Linked DNA regions of Homo sapiens. The protein of the gene in region 1 interacts with the protein of each later gene in a biochemical or structural test. Each region holds a gene or a part of one and is shown on either strand. Other genes may lie near its edges. The genes, in order: IFRD2, UBE2O and OAS3.

Evidence for each region.
Region 2: of the proteins of IFRD2 (region 1) and UBE2O, one has a biochemical effect on the other in vitro, tested with the Homo sapiens proteins (one study listed by BioGRID).
Region 3: the proteins of IFRD2 (region 1) and OAS3 form a complex in vitro, tested with the Homo sapiens proteins (one study listed by BioGRID).

Annotation. Positions count from the first base shown.
Region 1 is NC_000003.12:50,289,361-50,296,412, reverse strand, and holds the start of IFRD2 (interferon-related developmental regulator 2), read left to right. Parts: upstream 1-3,983; 5' UTR 3,984-4,138; coding exon 4,139-4,196; intron 4,197-5,733; coding exon 5,734-5,853; intron 5,854-5,940; coding exon 5,941-6,025; intron 6,026-6,118; coding exon 6,119-6,243; intron 6,244-6,326; coding exon 6,327-6,484; intron 6,485-6,650; coding exon 6,651-6,701; intron 6,702-6,784; coding exon 6,785-6,966; intron 6,967-7,052. Other genes in the region: HYAL3 (hyaluronidase-3 isoform 1 precursor), read left to right, coding at 811-1,704, 2,692-2,781, 2,898-3,167. UniProt on the Homo sapiens protein: Ribosome-binding protein that acts as an inhibitor of mRNA translation by promoting ribosome inactivation. Associates with the P- and E-sites of the ribosome and inserts a C-terminal helix into the mRNA exit channel to preclude translation.
Region 2 is NC_000017.11:76,450,095-76,457,679, reverse strand, and holds the start of UBE2O ((E3-independent) E2 ubiquitin-conjugating enzyme), read left to right. Parts: upstream 1-4,527; 5' UTR 4,528-4,538; coding exon 4,539-4,955; intron 4,956-7,585. UniProt on the Homo sapiens protein: E2/E3 hybrid ubiquitin-protein ligase that displays both E2 and E3 ligase activities and mediates monoubiquitination of target proteins. Negatively regulates TRAF6-mediated NF-kappa-B activation independently of its E2 activity.
Region 3 is NC_000012.12:112,948,463-112,955,567, reverse strand, and holds part of OAS3 (2'-5'-oligoadenylate synthase 3), read right to left. Parts: intron 6,708-7,105; coding exon 6,363-6,707; intron 4,876-6,362; coding exon 4,593-4,875; intron 1-4,592.

The DNA.
Region 1 (7,052 bases):
TCTCTTGGGTATGGCTGTGACAGTTTATTTGTTGATCCCCCTACCCTCACCTCTCACCTCTTCTGCAGGTCCCTTATCCCTGCAGAAGTCTCCAGATCCACCTTGGCCCTGAGGCCATTGATGGGAGGATGCCTGTCCTTTGCCTTTACCCCCCACCTGGCTCAGGAGACAGGGTGGCTGTTTTCTTCCCCATTCACTCATTACCATTCACTGAGCACCTACTGTGTGTCAAGCCCTGGACGGGACATAGGCAATGGGTAACTAGACAAACAGGCATACAGTAGCAGGATCCATGTGGCACAGGGGAGGTACAGAGGCTTTGGGAACCCAAGTGACTTCACTCCACCTGGGGATCCAGGAGACCTCCCAGGGCAGTGATGTCACAGCAGAGACCTGAGTGCTAGGTAGGAATTAAACCAGGCAGGTGAGGAGGTGGGAGCTGACTGTTCTTGGAAGAGGGAACAAGGTGGGCAGAGGAAAGAAGGGGACTTGTGACAGTTGTGGGAGGACACAGTGGTGTATTGACAAAGACGGAACATGGGAGGGAATGTACCCTCAGCTCACTGTAAAGCCCGCTTTGGTGTGCACCTGCCACTCGATGCCCGGGGCATCATAGCCAGCTTGCGGTGTGGCTGCTTTAAAAGGCCCAAGAGACCCCTGGGGAAACATGCTTTCCCCAGCTCCTCCTGTAAGGATGGGGAGGAGCTGGGGGAGCTTTCCTGGCTTTCCCTGCCATGTGGAAGGTGTGGCCATAGCTGCGGACTCTAAGCTTACACCCCCCTCTCTCCTGCAGGTTTCCATCCTTGGGGAATGACCACGCAACTGGGCCCAGCCCTGGTGCTGGGGGTGGCCCTGTGCCTGGGTTGTGGCCAGCCCCTACCACAGGTCCCTGAACGCCCCTTCTCTGTGCTGTGGAATGTACCCTCAGCACACTGTGAGGCCCGCTTTGGTGTGCACCTGCCACTCAATGCTCTGGGCATCATAGCCAACCGTGGCCAGCATTTTCACGGTCAGAACATGACCATTTTCTACAAGAACCAACTCGGCCTCTATCCCTACTTTGGACCCAGGGGCACAGCTCACAATGGGGGCATCCCCCAGGCTTTGCCCCTTGACCGCCACCTGGCACTGGCTGCCTACCAGATCCACCACAGCCTGAGACCTGGCTTTGCTGGCCCAGCAGTGCTGGATTGGGAGGAGTGGTGTCCACTCTGGGCTGGGAACTGGGGCCGCCGCCGAGCTTATCAGGCAGCCTCTTGGGCTTGGGCACAGCAGGTATTCCCTGACCTGGACCCTCAGGAGCAGCTCTACAAGGCCTATACTGGCTTTGAGCAGGCGGCCCGTGCACTGATGGAGGATACGCTGCGGGTGGCCCAGGCACTACGGCCCCATGGACTCTGGGGCTTCTATCACTACCCAGCCTGTGGCAATGGCTGGCATAGTATGGCTTCCAACTATACCGGCCGCTGCCATGCAGCCACCCTTGCCCGCAACACTCAACTGCATTGGCTCTGGGCCGCCTCCAGTGCCCTCTTCCCCAGCATCTACCTCCCACCCAGGCTGCCACCTGCCCACCACCAGGCCTTTGTCCGACATCGCCTGGAGGAGGCCTTCCGTGTGGCCCTTGTTGGGCACCGACATCCCCTGCCTGTCCTGGCCTATGTCCGCCTCACACACCGGAGATCTGGGAGGTTCCTGTCCCAGGTAAGTGGAAGCTGAGGTCTAGGGGTCTGAGTCAGGAGGTATGGCCCTGTTCTAGGAAGGTCCCAGGAGAAGACCTTGCCTAGGGGTTGGTCCTAATCTAGGCGTTCTCAGCGGAAGGCCCTGTCCTGGAGCATCTGATGAGGGAGGCATGGCTTTGCCCTGGAAGATGTTGAGGGGTAGGGAGGCCCAGCCTTTGGAGTGCTGGCCTGAGGGGAGATATTCTGAGTGGAAGGCCTGAGAAGCCACTCAGAGACTCGATACAAAGGGGCCCTACTTGGGCTGGGTGAGTGTCTCACACCTATAATCCCAGTACTTTGGGAGCCTGAGATGGAAGGATTCCTTGAGGCCAAGAGTTCGAGACCAGCCTGGGCAACATAGTGAGACCCCAACCTCTACCAAAAAAACATTTGAGACAGAGTCTTGCTCTGTTGCCCAGGCTGGAGTGCAGTGGCACCATCTCAGCTCACTGCGGCCTTCACTTCCTGGTTCTAGTGATCCTCCCACCTAAGCCTCCTCCCGAATAGCTGGACTACAGATGCATACCACCACACCCAGCTAATTTTTATATTTTTGTAGAGATGGGGTTTTGTCATGTTGCCCAGGCTGGTATTGAACTCCTGGGCTCAAGTGATTCTCCCGCTTTTGCCTCCCAAAGTGTGGGATTACAGGTGTGAGCCACTGTGCCCAGCCTAAAAAATTATTAGCCAGGTGTTATGCACCTGTAGTCCCAGCTGCTTGGGAGGCTGAGGTGGGAGGATTACTTGATCCCAGGAGTTCAAGGCTGCAGTGAGCTATGATCATGCCACTGCACTCCAGCCTGGATGACAGAGTAAAACCCCGCCTCTAAAACCAAACCAAACTAGAGAGTCCCTACTGTAGAGTTAGAATCAGATTGTGACAGTGAACCAGAAGAGTTTCTTGAATGTGGATGTGTGCCCACATGGATCTGGCCAGCCCAGCACTGGCTTAGCAGCTCTCTGCCTCCAGGATGACCTTGTGCAGTCCATTGGTGTGAGTGCAGCACTAGGGGCAGCCGGCGTGGTGCTCTGGGGGGACCTGAGCCTCTCCAGCTCTGAGGTGATCATTGCCCCTTTGAGCCTGCCATGTAGCACATGCTGGGGTCCCAGGGTGGGGGACGGCCATGTCAAGATTATAGAGCAGGCATATTGACACATATCTTCCCTTCTCCTCAGGAGGAGTGCTGGCATCTCCATGACTACCTGGTGGACACCTTGGGCCCCTATGTGATCAATGTGACCAGGGCAGCGATGGCCTGCAGTCACCAGCGGTGCCATGGCCACGGGCGCTGTGCCCGGCGAGATCCAGGACAGATGGAAGCCTTTCTACACCTGTGGCCAGACGGCAGCCTTGGAGATTGGAAGTCCTTCAGCTGCCACTGTTACTGGGGCTGGGCTGGCCCCACCTGCCAGGAGCCCAGGCCTGGGCCTAAAGAAGCAGTATAAAGCCAGGGCCCCTGCCACTGCCTCTTCTTTTCCCTGCTGCCACTTTTCCAGTCCTGGAACTACTCTGTCCCACTCTTGCTCTATTCAGTTTACAGTCAACCCTCCCAAGCACACACCCCGCTTCCCTTGGAATCCCTGAGGGGTAGAAGGGGCCAGAAAAAACGCTTATAAAACCAGAGGCCCTCTGAGATCATGTGAGTCCTCCATGGCAAGGAAGCAGTTCCAGGGAGAGTCAGGTTCCAGCTAGTTAGGGCTGCCAGCCTAGGGCTTTGTGCCTACACCTCACTAAGCCCATGGAGAGGTCACAGATGGGCCGTGCACGGGCAGATGGGCCCCAAAAAATCTTGGCGAAGGTCGGTAAAGTGCTAAGCTGTTGTCTGCACTCTTTCATCATAAAGTCACTTTTTTCCACTGCCTGAGGTTTGGCTGTTGCTCCTGTTATCCCAAGCTCTAAGCCCTTCCCATGGTCCCCAGACCCAGGCAGGGGTAGGTCTCGTCTGGAGTGTCCCGCTGCCAAGTGCCCTGAGAAGCCAGTCCTGCCTTGGTGCTCCACTGAGGGACGCTTCGGAGTTAACCACCGTGCACTTGTTCCCGACGCGGGGCTGGGGCGCGCGCAGGGCATTGTGGGTGCATAGTTCAGCCAGCGCGTCGTCGGCTGGTGGGCCCCAGGCGTGGACTACCATTCCCATGGTGCTCTACGCGCAGCTAGCCGCCGTCGCCTGCGCGCTCAGGCCTCTGGGATTAGTAGTTTTAGCCTCGTGGATGTGGGCCTGAATCGGATGGCCTGGAACTCGCCTTCCCGGCGACCTGTTTGGCAGGGCGGGGCGCCTCGCGAAGATGGTGGCGCGCGTGGCGTGTGGCTCCCGTCGTCTGGCCAAGTCTCAGCGCAGCGCACCGGCCGGCGTCTCGTTGGCCTGGAGCCCACACCCACCGGGTCCCTGACCCCGCGCCCCCCGCGCCCGGTTCCCGGCATGCCTCGCGCCCGTAAGGGCAACACGCTCCGGAAGGGTGGTCAGCGCCGTGGAGGAGGTGAGTGGGGTGGGGGGCGCGGGACAGCTGTATGAGCGGCGGGCGGGGGTCCTGCTGGATCCCCTTGGTTGTTCTCGAGGGCCCTGGGTGGGGAACCCCCTCGGCCAGCCCCACGCAGCTTCCCATAACTCTACCGAGGCTGGCACGTGCCCCAGCAGTCATTGGCCACGTGCGTGCCCAACTTGAGCTCGCTGCCCACTGCCTGTTGGGAGTCCGCGCTCCCAGCGGTGACCCGGCCAGCCCCTCCGGGCCTCAGTTGCCTGCTGGGTGGACAAACTCACCGGACAGGGCAGGAAGCCAGTCCTCTTGCCAAACCCTGATCCTTTCCTGGACTGGTCAAGGAAGTTGGCGGGAGTCCTGGCCTGCTCCGGTGAAGAGAGGGAGGGGGCTCTGTTGGGAAGCTACCTGGTTAGGGCCTTGGCAGCTTGGCAGGCCTGACTCCACAAGGTAGCTGAGTATCCTGGAGCCTGAGGCAGTCTTGGGACTCGCTTATCAGCTTAGACCAGGAGCCTATCTTAATGCGTTAAACACATATGTTTACTCTGCTGGGATGGGGTGCCTACCACGCACAAATTTATTTATTTTTATTCTTGAGGGGGAAGGGAGGAGGGCCGGGCACAGGAAGGAGGAAAATACCTAGGCACAACTTTAAACTGGTCACCACCATGGTGGGTTTTGGGTGGGGGACATCTAATAGGGTGTGGAACATGTTCACTGAGTGGTGTCAGCCCCAGACTTAGGACTCAGGGAGGCCTGGGGGGAAGTGCTTCTGGGTGAGTCCTGAGAGGATGGAGAAGAGAGCAAGTTGTACAAAGACCTGGCAGCTGGAGGGACCCCAGCGCAGTGGAGTGAATGAGGGAAGGCTGGGCTGCTCCGGCAGGTAGAATAGTAAGATAAAATGGGAGCAGGCTGGGCGTGGTGGCTCACACCTGTAATCCCAGCACTTTGGGAGGCCAAGGCAGGCAGATCACCTGAGGCCAGGAGTTCGAGACCAGCCTGACCAACATGGAGAAACCCTATCTACTAAAAATACAAAATTAGCTGGGTGTGGTGTCGTATGCCTGTAATCCCAGCTACTCGGGAGGCTGAGGCAGGAGAATCACTGGAACCCGGGAGGCAGAGGTCGCAGTGAGCCGAGATGGCGTCATTGCACTCCAGCCTGGGCAACAAGAGCAAAACTCTGTCTCAAAAAAAAAAAAAAAAAAAAAAGGTGGCGGGGAGCAGAGGCCAGTGCGCAGGCTGGACTTTGTCCTGCAGATGAGGGGTGTGAGTAGTTCTTAGAAGTAGGGCCAGCCTGGTGATCACACCCTGTCCAAAACTCTGCCACAGCAGCCAACCTTGCCAATGTCAGCCCTTGGCCCTGGACAGACCCCACACACAGGAGTGCACCAGCCCTACTGAACTGACCCTTGGCTTTGGTTTTTCATCTCTGAGAGGGACACCATTCTATCTTTTGGGATTATGAGGTCGAGTGAGGTACCCCCAGCCATCCCTCATCAGTAGAGGCAAGTTGAGTGTCCTATTCCACCTTCTCCAGGTGCCCGGAGCAGTGCCCAAGCTGACTCGGGTTCCAGTGACGATGAGGCAGCCAGTGAGGCCCGCAGCACCGCCAGTGAATGCCCCAGCCTTCTCAGCACCACTGCAGAGGACAGCCTTGGTGAGAGCGGGTGGAAGTTTGACAGGGGCTTGGTGAGGGCTCCATGGGCTGAGGACAAGAAGCGGTGCTGACCAGGTGGCCTTGCAGGGGGGGATGTCGTGGATGAGCAGGGCCAGCAGGAAGACCTTGAGGAAAAGCTGAAGGAGTATGTGGACTGTCTCACAGACAAGAGGTACCCCTGGCTGCCAGCCAACTCCTACACCCAGCTCCAAGTGTGATCAAGGGAGGGCTGGCCCATATGACCCCCCTTCTCGACCTCCCCCAGTGCCAAGACCCGGCAGGGTGCTCTTGAGAGCCTGCGCCTGGCCCTAGCGTCCCGCCTACTCCCCGACTTCTTGCTGGAGCGCCGCCTCACGCTAGCCGATGCCCTGGAAAAGTGCCTCAAGAAAGGTTGGACCTGGGGGTGTGTGGGAGACTTAAACTGGGCAGACACTGGCCCTTGCTGCATGGGCTGACTGGAAAGCATCCCACAGGGAAGGGCGAGGAACAAGCCCTGGCTGCTGCTGTGCTAGGCCTGCTCTGCGTGCAGCTGGGCCCTGGACCTAAGGGTGAGGAGCTGTTTCACAGCCTGCAGCCTCTGCTGGTCTCTGTGCTCAGTGACAGCACAGCTAGCCCTGCTGCCCGGCTCCACGTGAGTGTGCCTGTGCCCCATGAAACCCTTCCTGCACCTTATCCCTCAGCAGAGTGGTGGGTTCCCCCTATCTTCAGCCTCCTTTACTCTGAGGGGAGTGAGCTCCAGGGCTGGGAACCCAGGTTCACCCGCTGACCGTGGCATTGCATTGCCCTTCTCCCAACAGTGTGCTTCTGCCCTTGGCCTGGGCTGCTACGTGGCTGCCGCTGACATCCAGGTGAGGGGTCTTTGGGCACAGGTGGTAGAGCATCTAGGGCTGTAACTCTGCCTCTGAGCTCCCCTGCCTCTCTGTGCTCCTAGGACCTGGTCTCTTGCCTTGCCTGCTTAGAAAGTGTTTTCAGCCGGTTCTATGGCTTGGGGGGCAGCTCCACAAGTCCTGTGGTTCCTGCCAGCCTGCACGGCCTGCTCTCTGCTGCCCTGCAGGCCTGGGCATTGCTGCTCACCATCTGCCCTAGCACCCAAATCAGCCACATCCTTGACAGGTAGGGGTGGCTGTCCACTGGGAGGGGGAGGGGATCTCAAAGAGGCCCCCAAGCCACACATATAGCTCAGCCTGCCCCTTCCCTAG
Region 2 (7,585 bases), on another chromosome or scaffold:
AACATGGTCCACATGCTTAAGGGTTTAGTCTAGTGAGGGAGAGATCAGCATGTAAAATCAAGGAGTCTTACCTCCAACCTGGCAGTATCCTGATAATCTATGTAAAGCACTTAGTAGAGTATCTGGCATGAAGTTACAGCTCAATAAGTGATAGCTATTATTAGCCATTATTACAAGAAGCCGCAGAATAAACACAACACGTCTTCCAGGAGTGCCGATATTACTCAATGATTAGGGAGGAAAGGGCATTAGTTTTTACATTAAAACAACAAACATAGGCATACTCTGGAGTACAATGCAAAACTCACTTGATTTTTTGACAACAAAAGCAGATTTGAGGCCGGGTGCGGTGGCTTATGCCTGTAATCCCAACACTTTGGGAGGGCAAGGCGGGTGGATCATTTGAGGTCAGGAGTTCGAGACCAGCCTGGCCAACATGGTAAACCCCGTCTCTACTAAAAATACAAAAATTAGCCAGCCGTGGTGGTGGGCGCCTGTAATCCCAGCTACTCAGGAGGCTGAGGCAGGAGAATCGCTGGAACCTGGGAGACGGAGGTTGCAGTGAGTCAAGATCACGCTACTGCACTCCAGCATGGGCGACAGAGTGAGACCCTGCCATGAAACAAAAAGCAGATTTGAGGTCTGCACTGCCTTATCCCGCCGTGGGACACATAGACACATGGACTCCCCTGTGCAATCAGGAGTTCTTCTGAGGGAAGCCTAAAGAAATAGCATAACTACAAAAGCCCCTGCCCTTAGAGTGGGGAAACTCCTCAGGTTACTACCTGTTACCTTAGGCGCCAAATTCCTTGGGCCCTATTTCTTCATTGGTAAAATGAGGTTAAAAACTCTCTATATCCAAGATTGTGATAACAGACAAGATAATGTGCTTGGAAGTACCTGGTACAATGCCTGGTCAATAATATGTGCTTAATAAATGCTATGTTATCAGGGGGCAAGAAAACAGGGCTGAAAGGGTCATGGGAGGCAGAACAGAAGCTACTATGTTACTGCTGTTTAATCTCCCAGGTCTCTACAGGAGAGGGAGTAGGGACCTGCGTCCTTACAGCAGTGATTCCAGATGGTCATTTGGCATTGTGTTCTGGGATGGGAAGGCCATGGTTTGAGAACCCAGCCTTGCCCCAAAATCATATCCTAACTCCCCCTTCAGCTGATTCAGCCCATTTGTTCTATATCTTAGTAGATAAATTTTCTAAGATTTGGGTCCATTGACAACCACCCTGATCCCAATATTACATCAATACTCTATTAGTACTTGGCCTAAGACATCTTAAGTACTTAGGCTGCCATCTGTTTTGTGCATGTTCTTTTTTTTTTTTTTTTTCCTGAGATGGAGTTTTGCTCTTGTTGCCCATGCTGGAGTTCAATGGCTCGATCTTGGCTCACCACAACCTCCACCTCCCGGGTTCAAGTGATTCTCCTGCCTCAGCCTCCTGAGTAGCTGGGATTACAGGCATGGGCTACCATGCCTGGCTAATTTTGTATTTTTAGTAGAGATGGGGTTTCTCCATGTTGGTTAGGCTGGTCTTGAACTCCTCACCTCAAGTGATCCGCCTGCCTCAGCCTCCCAAAGTGCTGGGATTACAGGCGTGAGCCACCGTGCCCGACCTTGTGCATGTTCTTTTAACTTTTCTCTCTCTTTTTTTGAGACGCAGTCTCGCTCTGTCGCCCAGGCTGGAGTGCAGTGATGTGTTCTTGGCTCACTGTAACCTCCTGCTCCCGGGTTCAAGCGATTCTCCTGCATCAGCCTCCCGAGTAGCTGGGACTACAAGCATGCGCCACTACACCTGGCTAATTTTGTGTTTTTAGCAGAGACGGGGTTTCACCATGTTGGCCAGGGTGCTCTTGAACTCCTGACTTCAAATGATCCATCTGCCTTGGCCTCCCAAAGTGCTGGGATTACAGATGTGAGCCACCACACCCAACCAACTTTTCTATGAACATAGTTCTGTATCTTCAGGATCCTGTAAACAACACAAAGAGCTGGGATTCTGCCTTCTTTGAAGAACCTAAATACTGTAATATCCAACTTACTAGTCTTTCGTTGATGATCGTGTAGAAAAATGTGGAAAAAATGATGTTGACTGAGAAAGGTTAGGGCCAGATCTTGTTTTCCTTAACAATCCATTTAAATCTGTCCTCTGAGAATGTATCTAAACCCTTTGAAACTTAGGTGACACATTAAATTAGAGTTAGTTTTTTTCTTTTGAGATAGAGTCTCACTCTGTCACCCAAGCTGGAGTGCAGTGGTGTGATCTAGGCTCACTGCAACCTCCAACCCCCAGGTTCAAGTGGTTCTCGTGTCTCAGCCTCCCAAGTAGCTGGAATTACAGGCGCCTGCCACCTTGCCCAGCTAATTTTGGATTTTTAGTAGACATGGGGTTTTGCCATGTTGGCCAGGCTAGTTTTGAACTCCTGACCTCAACTGATCCACCCACCTTGGCATCCCAAAGTGTTGGGATTTCAGGCGCAGTCAAAGTGTTGGGATTTCAGGCGTGAGCCACTGTGCCCGGCCTAGAGTTACTTTTTTTTGAGACGGAATCTCACTCTGTCGCCCAGGCTGGAGTGCAGCGGCGCGATCTAGGCTCACTACAACCTCCACTCCCCAGGTTCAAGTGATTCTCCTGCCTCAGCCTTCCGAGTAGCTGGGATTACAGGCGGCTGCCACCGCGCCCGGCTAATTTTTGTATTTTTAGTAGAGACAGGGTTTCACCATCTTGGCCAGGCTGGTCTTGAACTCCTGACCTCGGGTCTCCCACCCGCCTCGGTCTCCCAAAGTGCTGGGATTACAGGCAAGAGCCACCACATCCAGCCTTTTTTTTGTTTTTTGTTTTTTGAGACAGAGTCCTGCTCTGTTGCCAAGGCTGGAGTGTAGTGGCATGATCTCGGCTCACTGCAACTTCTGCCTCCCAGATTCAAGCAATTCTCCTGCCTCAGCCTCCCAAGTAGCTGGGACTACAGGTGCACACCACCACGCCCAGCTAATTTTTGTACTTTTAGTAGAGAAGGGATTTCGCCATGTTGGCCAGGGCGGTCTTGAACTCCTGACCTCAGGTGATCAGGTGATCCATCTGCTTCTGCCTCCCAAAGTGCTGGGATTACAGGCATGAGCCACCACGCCTGGCCCTAGAGTTACTTTTTATATTTTATTTATTTTTATTTATTTATTTTTTTGAGACAGAGTCTTGCTCTGTTGCCCAGGGTGGAGTGCAGTGGCGCGATCTGGGCTCACTGCAACCTCAGCCTCCCAGGTTCAAGCGATTTGCCTGCCTCAGCCTCCTGAGTAGCTGGGACTACAGCCATGTGCCACCACGCCCAGCTATTTTTTTTTTTTTTCCGTATTTTTAGTAGAGATGGGGTTTCGCCATGTTGGCCAGGATGGTCTCAATCTCTTGACCTCGTGATCCGCCCACCTCAGCCTCCCAAAGTACTGGGATGACAGGTGTGAGCTGCCGCGCCCGGCCTACTTTTTATATTTTAAAATGACAATATGGAGCAGACCATAACAGTTCTGCCAGTCTGGAATTTAGTCTAGGCAGGGAGTTTGGAAATAGTACAACAATGGTTAAGCTTATCGAAGGAGCTAAATGCCAGGCACTGTTCTACTTCACTTAATCCTCCAATTGCCCAATGAGATGAGTATTGCTATTATCATCCCTATTTCACAGATGAGCAAATTAAGATGAAAATAAGTTAATCAGTGTGCCTATTTTTATAGATTAGTAAGTGGCAGTGCCAAAAATTGGAATCCGTGGTCCCCACTCTTAGCTACCTTACTATACTACCTCTTGCCATTCATTCTTGGCTTCAGGGAGCTTTGAATTTATCTGCATGGATTTGTAGCCAAACCACTGGGACCACTGATCCTTTTGTTACCTTTCTCTGGGCCTCCTTCACCAGCTTCTGGGTCAACTTCTGAGGGGTCATGACGTTCGAACTGCTTGGAATTCCTGAATACAGTGCATTATACATATGCTCTACACGTATCTATTATAGCCTTACAAGTTGGAGTTGTTTGTTATCTATTTAATGTGTATTTGTTTTGTCTCCCCAACTAGACTGGAAACACCTAGAGGACAGGGACAGTATCTTTCTCTTTCTGCAATGCTCCCAGTGCCTGGGGGCTAGGCTAGGACGCCAAGGGAGCTCATTAAAAGTTGTTGACAGTCTCTCCACCATCCTGTGCCCCACCCCGACCACTCCCCTCTTCCTCGGTGGCCACTCCACTTCCTCCTCCCGGGTCCCCGCCCCTTCTCGCTCCCTTTAGTTGAATCCTCACTGGTCTCGCCCCTTCTTAGTGGATTCCATCCTGCCCCCGCCCCCCGCGGCATCTTCAGCGTCCCCTAGCGACGAGGCGGTGGCTCCTAGCAACTGCATCCCGGCTCCCTGACGACGGCGCCACGCAGGGACACGTCAGCGCGCTATGGCCCCGCCCCCGGCGCCCGCTGGTCCCGCCTCCCCGCGCCTCGTTCGCCGCCGCTGTCGCCGCCGCCGCCCGAGACTCGCGCAGAGCAGTTATGGCGGATCCCGCAGCCCCCACGCCCGCAGCTCCCGCTCCAGCCCAGGCCCCGGCTCCAGCCCCGGAGGCAGTCCCGGCCCCAGCCGCAGCCCCCGTCCCGGCGCCGGCGCCCGCCTCGGACTCGGCCTCCGGGCCGTCCTCGGACTCCGGCCCAGAAGCCGGCTCGCAGCGCCTGCTGTTTTCTCACGACCTGGTGTCGGGCCGTTACCGTGGCTCCGTGCACTTCGGGCTGGTGCGCCTCATCCACGGCGAGGACTCGGACTCGGAGGGCGAGGAGGAGGGCCGCGGGAGCTCGGGGTGCTCCGAGGCCGGGGGCGCGGGCCACGAGGAGGGCCGGGCCAGCCCCCTGCGCCGCGGCTACGTGCGCGTCCAGTGGTACCCGGAGGGCGTCAAGCAGCATGTGAAGGAGACCAAGGTGCGGCGGGCGGGGGCTGGGCGGCGCGGGCGGCAGGGGGTCGGCGGCCGGGCCGAGGCCAGGGAAGGACGGCGTGCAGGGCCCTGCCCGGAGCGGTGCCACTGCAGTGGCCGACGCGGGAGGACAGCCCCAGTGGAGGGTACACTCCATGCAAAGTCATTGCAGCAGCTCTGGGCGCACACGCCAGCCAGGCACTGCTGGCCCGGGACCGGGCGGGCCCTGGGCTTCCCGACTTGAGGGGACTTCTAAGACATGTTATGCTGTGGTGTCGGCCTCGAGATTTAGAGACGTGGACCGACTCCCGTGGGGACTCAGGTTCTGGGGCGCGTTCGGCGTTACACCAGTGCGGCGTTTTGCTGACCCCCAAGGAGCTCGGTACTGCATTGTGCATCCAGAAATGAAGGCCGTGCCGGGTCCGTGCAGGGAGGGGTTGTGGGCATTCCAAAACAAAGATAGAGGTGAAAATCCCAGCCGAACCCAAGAAGTTCACTAGCTTACAGGCTGCATTATGGTGAAGCCACCCAGCCTCTTTTTGTTTTACCCTGCTGCCTCCTTTTAATTGCTGCAGGGAACTTTGTGAGTAAAATCATTAGCAATCAGAGCCCCGGTATGAATAGTACTTGGGGGGGAGGATTCTGACAGCTGCGACCGGGATTGATGACTCCTAAGTGCATATGGACTCCTTGAAAAAAATAATCCAGAACCCTGGGTAGAGGGGAGTCACCAATTTGGAAACCCGAAGGTTTTTTCTTGACCTGAAGCTGTTAAGCAGACATCTGACTCCCGTATGGTTTTTGGGGTGATGCTAGTGAGTATAGCAGTTTTACAAAACAAAGAGGCTTGTCATCATAAACCCGAAACCTTGAACCCGGGTTGGTTTGGTGGCTTGTTTTCCAGAATGTGAATTCCTATCAGTAATTGACACACACACACACACACACACACCCCCCTGTATCTCACACCCCTTCTTTCTCTCCTACTTCCCCTCCCCTTCAAGAAAACATTTCTAAGCAGGAATCAGGCCTACGCTGTTTTAGGTCCTTGGGAGGTTGAGAGGTCTGATTTCAGGGGAGGGCACTTTGGAAGTTGATCTGGGTTTCTCACACAGTGGGAGACAAAGACTACAGAGGAACGGGGTTTCATGTCAAACTACAAAGCGGGGTCTGTGACAACGGCTTGAGAAGGAAAAAGGCCCCACTCCAGAGAAGAGCACATGATCCATTTCCTAGAGGCAGAAGTGACTGCTGATACCAGCGGGGTCTTTTTGTTGGGGATGCACATACATCCACAGACACAAATCCACACACAGGACCCTGCTTCCCCTCAGAGAAATGTGAATCAGGCAACAGCTCTGAGACTTGGAAGGAAAATTATCAGTCCATTTACAAGAGTATTTGGAAAATATTACTTTTGTGCAACAGAATGCTTGTTAAAAATTACCCAGTATTGTGTCAGTAAAAGAGGGTTATTGCTGTATACTGTGTGACACCAGATGATTGCTGGTGTCTTTCTGTGAGTTTTTAAGAATGTTTTTCACCACCCATCTATTTGAGAGATTCGTGATTTTTGGAACGCAACTCATTTGACTGCAGCATCCTCTGTGTTGTGGCCTCCTGCCCTAGGACTCAGGGAGGTAGGCCCAGCTCACTACTGGGAGCCGCTATGTTTATCAGTTGTTGTTCCCGTCCGTCTTGACTTTGGTGGTTAACTTTGTTTGCAGTTATGCTCCGTTTGCCTCCTGCACTATGTGTAATTATACAGAGTTTGACTTGAAATACCTATTTTGGAGTTAAATCGAAAACAACGGCCGGGTGTGGTAGCTCATGCCTGTAATCCCAGCACTTGGGAGGCCGAGGCGGGCGGATCACCTGAGGTCAGGAGTTCGAGACCAGCCTGACCAACATGGAGAAACCCTGTCTCTACTAAAAATACAAAATTAGCTGGGCTTGGTGGCGCATGCCTGTAACCTGAGCTACTCGGGAGGCTGAGGCGGGAGAATTGCTTGAACCAGGGAGGCGGAGGTTGCGGTGAGCTGAGATGGCACCATTGCACTCCAACCTGGGCAGCAAGAGTTAAACTCTGTCTCAAAAGAAAAGAAAAAAAAAACAACAACTTTGAGGCACCACTTTGGATAGATTTTGCAGCTGGCCTCCTGTGACTTGCTTTGAATTTGTTGAAATCCGTTTTGTGGCTCGGTGGTGGTATTTTGTCATTGTAGCATCTGGGTTTAGCAAAAGCCAAGGGACGCAGAAATTCCAAGGAAGTGGTGGAATGGGATGCCCATTTATGGGTGGCAAGATATAGTTCTTTTAGGATTTAGAATAGGTTTGTTTTGGAGGGTGGAGTTTATACCTGATAGGTAGCTCTGTTACCATGAGCTATAGATACAGGTGACTGATTAGCTGAATGTCTCCTGGTCTGTTACTGACCACCAAGCAGGGTGGTAGGGTGGGTCCTGGGACCTTGCAGAACTGTGGCTTAGGATGATTTTTCTTCTCACCTCCTGCTCCTTATGAATTCCATCAAGGTGATAGTATGCCGTAAAGGAAAGACCATTAGACCAAGATTGACTAATCTAGTTATGAGATTTGAGAACCCAATTATTGACAAAATAATGTAGTGGCAGATTT
Region 3 (7,105 bases), on another chromosome or scaffold:
TAGATGCCAAAAAGGCCTTTGAGAAAATTCAACAGCCCTTCATGCTAAAAACTCTCAATAAACTAGGTATTGATGGGAGGCATCTCAAAATAATGAGTTATTTATGACAAACCCACAGCCAATATCGTACTGAATGGGCAAAAACTGGAAGCATTCCCTTTGGAAACTGGCACAAGACAGGGATGCCCTCTCTCACCACTCCTATTCAACATAGTGTTGGAAGTTCTGGCCAGGGCAATAAGGCAGGAGAAAGAAATAAAGGGTATTCAATTAGGAAACGAGGAAGTCAAATTGTCCCTGTTTGCAAATGACATGATTGTATATTTAGAAAACCCCATCGTCTCAGCCCAAAATGTTCTTAAGCTGATAAGCAACTTCAGCAAAGTCTCAGGATACAAAATCACTGTGCAAAAATCACAAGCATTCCTACACACCAATAACAAACAAACAGAGAGCCAAATCATGAGTGAACTCCCATTCACAATTGCTTCAAAGAGAATGAAATACCCAGGAATCCAACTTACAATGGATGTGAAGGACTTCTTCAAGGAGAACTACAAACCACTGCTCAGTGAAATAAAACAGGACACAAACAAATGGAAGAACATTCCATGCTCATGGATAGGAAGAATCAATATTGTGAAAATGGCCATATTGCCCAAGGTAATTTATAGATTCAATGCCATCCCCAACAAGCTACCAATGACTTTCTTCACAGAATTGGAAAAAACTACTTTAAAGTTCATATGAAACCAAAAAAGAGCCTGCATTGCCAAGACAATCCTAAGCCAAAAGAACAAAGCTGGAGGCATCACGCTACCTGACTTCAAACTATACTACAGTAACCAAAACAGCATGGTACTGTACCAAAACAGAGATATAGACCAATGGAATAGAACAGAGCCCTCAGAAATAACACCACATGTCTACAACCATCTGATCTTTGACAAACCTGACAAAAACAAGAAATGGGGCCAGGCGCAGTGGCTCACGCCTGTAATCCCAGCACTTTGGGAGGCCGAGGTGGGTGGATCACGAGGTCGGGAGATCAAGACCATCCTGGCTAACATGGTGAAACCCTGTCTGTCTCTACTAAAAAATACAAAAAAATTAGCCAGATGTGGTGGCGGGCACCTGTAGTCCCAGCTACTAGGGAAGCTGAGGCAGGAGAATGGTGTGAACCTGGGAGGTGGAGCTTGCAGTGAGCCGAGATCGCGTCACTGCACTCCAGCCTAGGCAACAGAGCGAGACTCCATCTCAAACAACAACAACAACAACAACAACAAACAAACAAACAGACAAACAAGAAATGGGGAAAGGATTCCCTATTTAATAAATAGTGCTGGGAAAACTGGCTAGCCATATCTAGAAAGCTGAAACTGTATCCTTTCCTTACACCTTATACAAAATTAATTCAAGATGGATTAAAGACTTACATCTTAGACCTAAAACCATAAAAACCCTAGAAGAAAACCTAGGCAATACCATTCAGGACATAGGCATGGGCAAGGACTTCATGACTAAAACACCAAAAGCAATGGCAACAGAAGCCAAAACTGACAAATGGGATCTAATTAAACTAAAGAGTTTCTGCACAGCAAAAGAAACTACCATCAGAGTGAACAAGCAACCTACAGAATGGGAGAAAATTTTTACAATCTACTCATCTGACAAAGGGCTAATATCCAGAATCTACAAAGAACTTAAACAAATTTATAAGAAAAAAATCAAACAACCCCATCAAAAAGTGGGTAAAGGATATGAACAGACACTTCTCAAAAGAAGACATTTATGCAGCCAACAGACACATGAAAAAATGCTCATCATCACTGGCCATCAGAGAAATGCAAATCAAAACCACAATGAGATACCATCTCACACCAGTTAGAATGGCGATCATTAAAAAGTCAGGAAACAACAGGTGCTGGAGAGGATGTGGAGAAATAGGAACACTTTTACACTGTTGGTGGGACTGTAAACTAGTTCAGCCATTGTGGAAGACAGTGTGGTGATTCCTCAAGGATCTAGAACTAGAAATACCATTTGACCCAGCCATCCCATTACCGGGTATATACCCAAAGGATTATAAATCATGCTGCTAGAAAGACACATGCACACATATGTTTATTGTGGCACTATTCACAAGAGCAAAGACTTGGAACCAACCCAAATGTCCATCAATGACAGACTGGATTAAGAAAATGTGGCACATATACACTATGGAATACTATGCAGCCATAAAAAAGGATGAGTTCATGTCCTTTGTAGGGACATGGATGAAGTTGGAAACCATCATTCTGAGCAAACGAACACAGGAGCAGAAAACCAAACACCACATGTTCTCACTCATAGGTGGGAACTGAACAATGAGAACACTTGGACACGGGGTGGGGAACATCACACACCAGGGCCTGTCGTGGGGTGGGGGGAGTGGGGAGGGATAGCATTAGAAGATATACCTAATGTAAATGACGAGTTAATGGGTGCAGCACACCAACATGGCACATGTATACATATGTAACAAACCTGCATGTTGTGCACATGTACCCTAGAACTTAAAGTATAATAAAAAAATCATAGAAAAAAAGAATTCTATACACAGATACATCAAAGAGAAACTGAAGGATACTATGAACCAAGAGAAAGTCTTAAAAGCCACTGAAAGGGAAATCAAAAGAAAATGAACAAACAAAATTCATGCATGCAAACAGAAAACAGATCATTAACAACAAAAAATCAATAACTGACAGAGACTTCTCATCAGCAACAACAGGTAAGAAGACAGCAGAACTAAGGAAAACAAGTGTCAAGCATCCCATTCAAGCATGGAGGTGAAACAGAAATGGTTTTAGACAAAGTCTGAGAAAAATTTGTCACTCATAAACCCTTTCTGAAAAAGTACTAAAAGATGTATTTCTGTAAGAAGGAAAATGAATCCAGAAGGAAGAACAGGAAATCAAGTAGCAATGGTGAAAAAATTTGTTAATTATATTAATAGGGTTTAATTTGCATAGATTGTAAAAACAAAAACAAAAGAAATAATCTCCCCTATTATTAGTGTCTGGAAGTTTAGTTCCAAGATATTATCAAACCCTTGAAGATCATTATATCATTGTTGCTTCTTTCATTTTTGTCTTTTAGCTTTGTGCTGCCTGTAATGGGTACAATTTAATAACACATGCTAGTAAATAAAGAGTAGAGAGGGTACGTCAGGAAAATGCTGACAAAGGAGGACTAAAGCCCTATTAATGTCAGACAAAAGGCTTTAAGACAAAGATAACTTTCAGAAATGAAGATTATTACTTAATAATAAAAGAACAATCCAATAAAATATAATATTATGCACTTATATGTTCCCAATAACATAGCCTCAAAATATTAAAAACAAAATTTACAGAATTGCAAGGAACAAGGGATAAATATCCATTCAGAGCAGGAGATTTTAAGATATTTTACTCAGAAATTGAGAGACCAAACAAAAAATTATCCGAGCAAGAAGTCATAAGCTAGATCTAAAGGACCTATATAGAAGTCTGCATTCAGCAATGGAAAGCATGAGATAGAGTCTCACTCTGTCTCTCAGGCTGGAGTGCAGTGGTGCAATCTCAGCTCACTGCAACCTCTGCCTCCCAGGTTCAAGAGATTTTCCTGCCTCAGTCTCCCGAGTAGCTGGGATTACAGGTGCGTGCCACCATGCCAGGCTATTTTTTTTTTTTTTTTTTTTTTTTGTATTTTTAGTGGAGATGGGGTTTCACTGTGGCCAGGCTGGTCTCGAACTCCTGACCTCAAGTGACCTGCCCGCATTGGCCTTCCAAAATGCTGGGATTACAGGTGTGATCCACCATGCCTGGATGGAAAGCATGCATTCTTTTCAACCATGGGCAATCTAAGAAATGCCAACAAATTCCAAAGAATTGATATCACATAAAGTATGTTTTCTGACTACAGTTTTAAAAAACATAATAAGTAAATGCCGAAAGCAAACAAATCTCCAAAACATTCATTTGGAAAGCTACTTCCAAATATTCATGGATGAAAGAACAAACAATAATGTCATAATTAAAAGTACTAAATATTTAGACCGGAATGATAATAAAAATTATGCATGTCAAACAAAAGATTTGCCCTGTAGCTAATGTGATACTGAAAGGGAAATGGGTAGCTTTAATTGCATTGACTAAAACTGATAATTACTAAGCTAAGATTCACCTCCGAAAGTTAAAAAAAAATGAACCATAAAGTAAACCCTTTAAAATAAGGAAGAAAATTATAACATGAGAAATTTCTTTAAAAAAATACCAAGCAGATATGCCTACTGTTAACATTTGTTAAATCTGAATTGGGCTACATGGGTGTGTGACGTCTGTAGTTTTCTGTATGCTTGAAACATTTCATAATTAAAATATTTGTAAAGTTAAAGCACTAAATAGTTGTAAGATTTGATGGTGATGATTACTTTCAGTATCTCAAAGTAGTTTTCAATGCTTGGTCAAGTAGGAGAATTAGGATCACAAAGAGGATGGCAGGTGCCCCTGTTAGATGGGCGCCTGAGGTCCCTATCACTCTCCAAGGGACAGGCTGGGCGCCCTCACCCACAGCATCGAAGGCAGGCAGCAGGCTAACATCCGTCCAGCTCTTCAGGGCTGTGGACACCAGCTGGAACTGCAGAGCCTCAGGCACATTCTGCTCAGGAAACTGAAGGCTCAGGCTGGGCACCTGGTCCTGCCACCAGGATTCTAGCTGCGCTCGCATCTCATCAAGGATCTCTGCGCGGCGGGGCCCCTGGTCCTTGTAGTCCGTGAAGCAGTTGAGGAAGATGATGAGTTCAACATCACAGCCATCCCTTAGGTCTGTGCCCCGGCCAAATGAGCCCCCCTGTGGAGGGAAGAACAGCTCAGATCAGGGACCCTCTAGGAGCCTGGGAGTCGGACTACGATCCCATCACCTGCGCCCCATCTACAGCCTGGAACCTGCCCTCTTGCTGATGTCAGGTCTGGGGACTATGACAAAGGTCGACTGCATGGGTCCTGTGACCTCTTAGAATTGTGACAGAGAGTCAAGTTGTATCTGCCTGCACCTGCCCTCTGATCCATGAAGACTGAGCTAAGTCAGACCAAACTGCAGCAACAGATAATGGAGGTGGGATTAAGTAGGGGCAGCGACCAAACATTTTAGCCTACTATCTGCAGCATCTACTGACTGCACATCTGGGCCAGCAGTTGCAAATTGAGGTCCCAAGCCCTAATAGGGCCTGCAATTGTCCTCTGTTGCCCTGTTTCCATCAATTCCCTCCCTCCCTCCCTCCTTCACACGGGATATCACACATATCCGATACATGTAAGTGCTCACTAAATGTTTGTTGCAGGAAAGAAAGAAGAAGAGAGGATACAAAATTTCTGTTCTTCTGGAACTTACATGCTGGCTGGGGGAGGGAAGGAAGGGACCATCAATAAACAATAGGTCCTGAGAAAATGCTAAGTGCTGTGCAGAACAGAAAGGGGGCTGGTAGTGCAAGACTGCAATTTTATTTTTATTTATTTTTATTTTTGAGACGGAGTTTCACTCTTGTCGCCCAGGCTGGAGTGCAGTGGCATGGTCTCAGCTCACTGCAACCTCCGCCTCCCGGGTTCAAGCGATTTTCCTGCCTCAGCCTCCTGCATAGCTGGGATTACAGGGGCCCGTCACCATGCCCAGCTAATTTTTGTATTTTCAGTAGAGACAGGGTTTCACCATGTTGGCCAGGGTGGTCTTGAACTCCTGACCTCAGGTGATCTGCCCACCTTGGCCTCCCAAAGTTCCAGGATTACAGGCGTGAGCCACCGTGCCCGGGCAAGACTGCAATTTTAAATCGTGTGGTCAGGCCTCAGTGGACGAGGACATCAGATCAAGAAACTTGAAGAGGAGAGACAGAGAGAGCGAGAGAGAGAGAGCCAAATGGTTGGGGAAGAGAATTCTCATTTTCTTCTAGGAAGAGAAAACAGCCACTACAGAGGCCTTGAATTGTTCTGTGGACCTGGTAAGCTCAGAGCAGCCAGGAGGCCAGTGTGGAGTAAGTCAAGGCCAGAGGGAGACCAGGGCCCATCCTGTAGGACTTGAGGCCTCTGCGCCCTGTGAAACCATGGAGAATTTTGAGCTGAGGAGGGAAGTGATCTGATTCTTGTAATAGTGTTTTAAAAACTGTATCATTAAAAAAAAGAAAATCTAAGCTGGCACTTAAATATATTTTATTTAAGCCAGCAAATCATCCTTCCTGGGCCGTCCAGTTCCCCAGCCCAACCTCAGCTCCATTGCTGTAACTCCTTCCCTTCCCCACGCTGATCCCTCGATAGGGTCCCCCCTGTGTCTCCACTGGCCCAACTCACTTTACTGACTCTTGAGGCCTTGTGAACACAGTTCTCATGGAGGCAGCGCAAGATGATGTCAATGGCCTTTTTCACCTGCTCCTGGAACTGGGGGCTCGGCTTCAGGTGGTCCTGGATGAAGCGGTCCAGCTCCTTGGTGGGGATCTGAGACAGGTCCAAGGCCATTCCCGGCACAGAGGGGACGATGCTGGCTGCCCCAGTGGGGCCAGGAGCTGGGCATGAGGGAGGTTTGCTCCCTGCTCTTGGGTACACAGCATTGAGGCTCTTGCTGTTTTCAGGGGTCTTCTGGTTAGGGTCTAGCTGGATGGGGTGGCCCAAACCTGAGCATCCAGCACGTGGAAGGCCCTGGAAGGTCATTGAAGGAGCTGCCTCAGCCAGGCGCAGTGGTTTCTGCATCAACCCAATGCCTTCTCTCCCCAGCTCCCGCCCTTTGTACAGTCAGGGTGACTGAGGCTCAGAGAGGGGAAGTGGGAGGGCCATGGCTAACGCACATGGCCATCTTTGGGCAGAGTTGAAAAAGGTGCCTTTCTGGAGGGATAAACTGCAAAATGGGTGCCCTTGTGATGGGCAGAAAGGTCTGGTAACCAGACCATAGCTGCAGAAAAACAAAGGACTCCTTCCCCCGGGCAGTTTCAGCTTGAGCTTGGTGATAAGACTGTTTTACATGCCTGATGCCCTGTGCATTTTTTTTTTTTTTTTTTTTGGGACGGAGTCTTACTCTGTCACCCAGGCTGGAGTGCAAT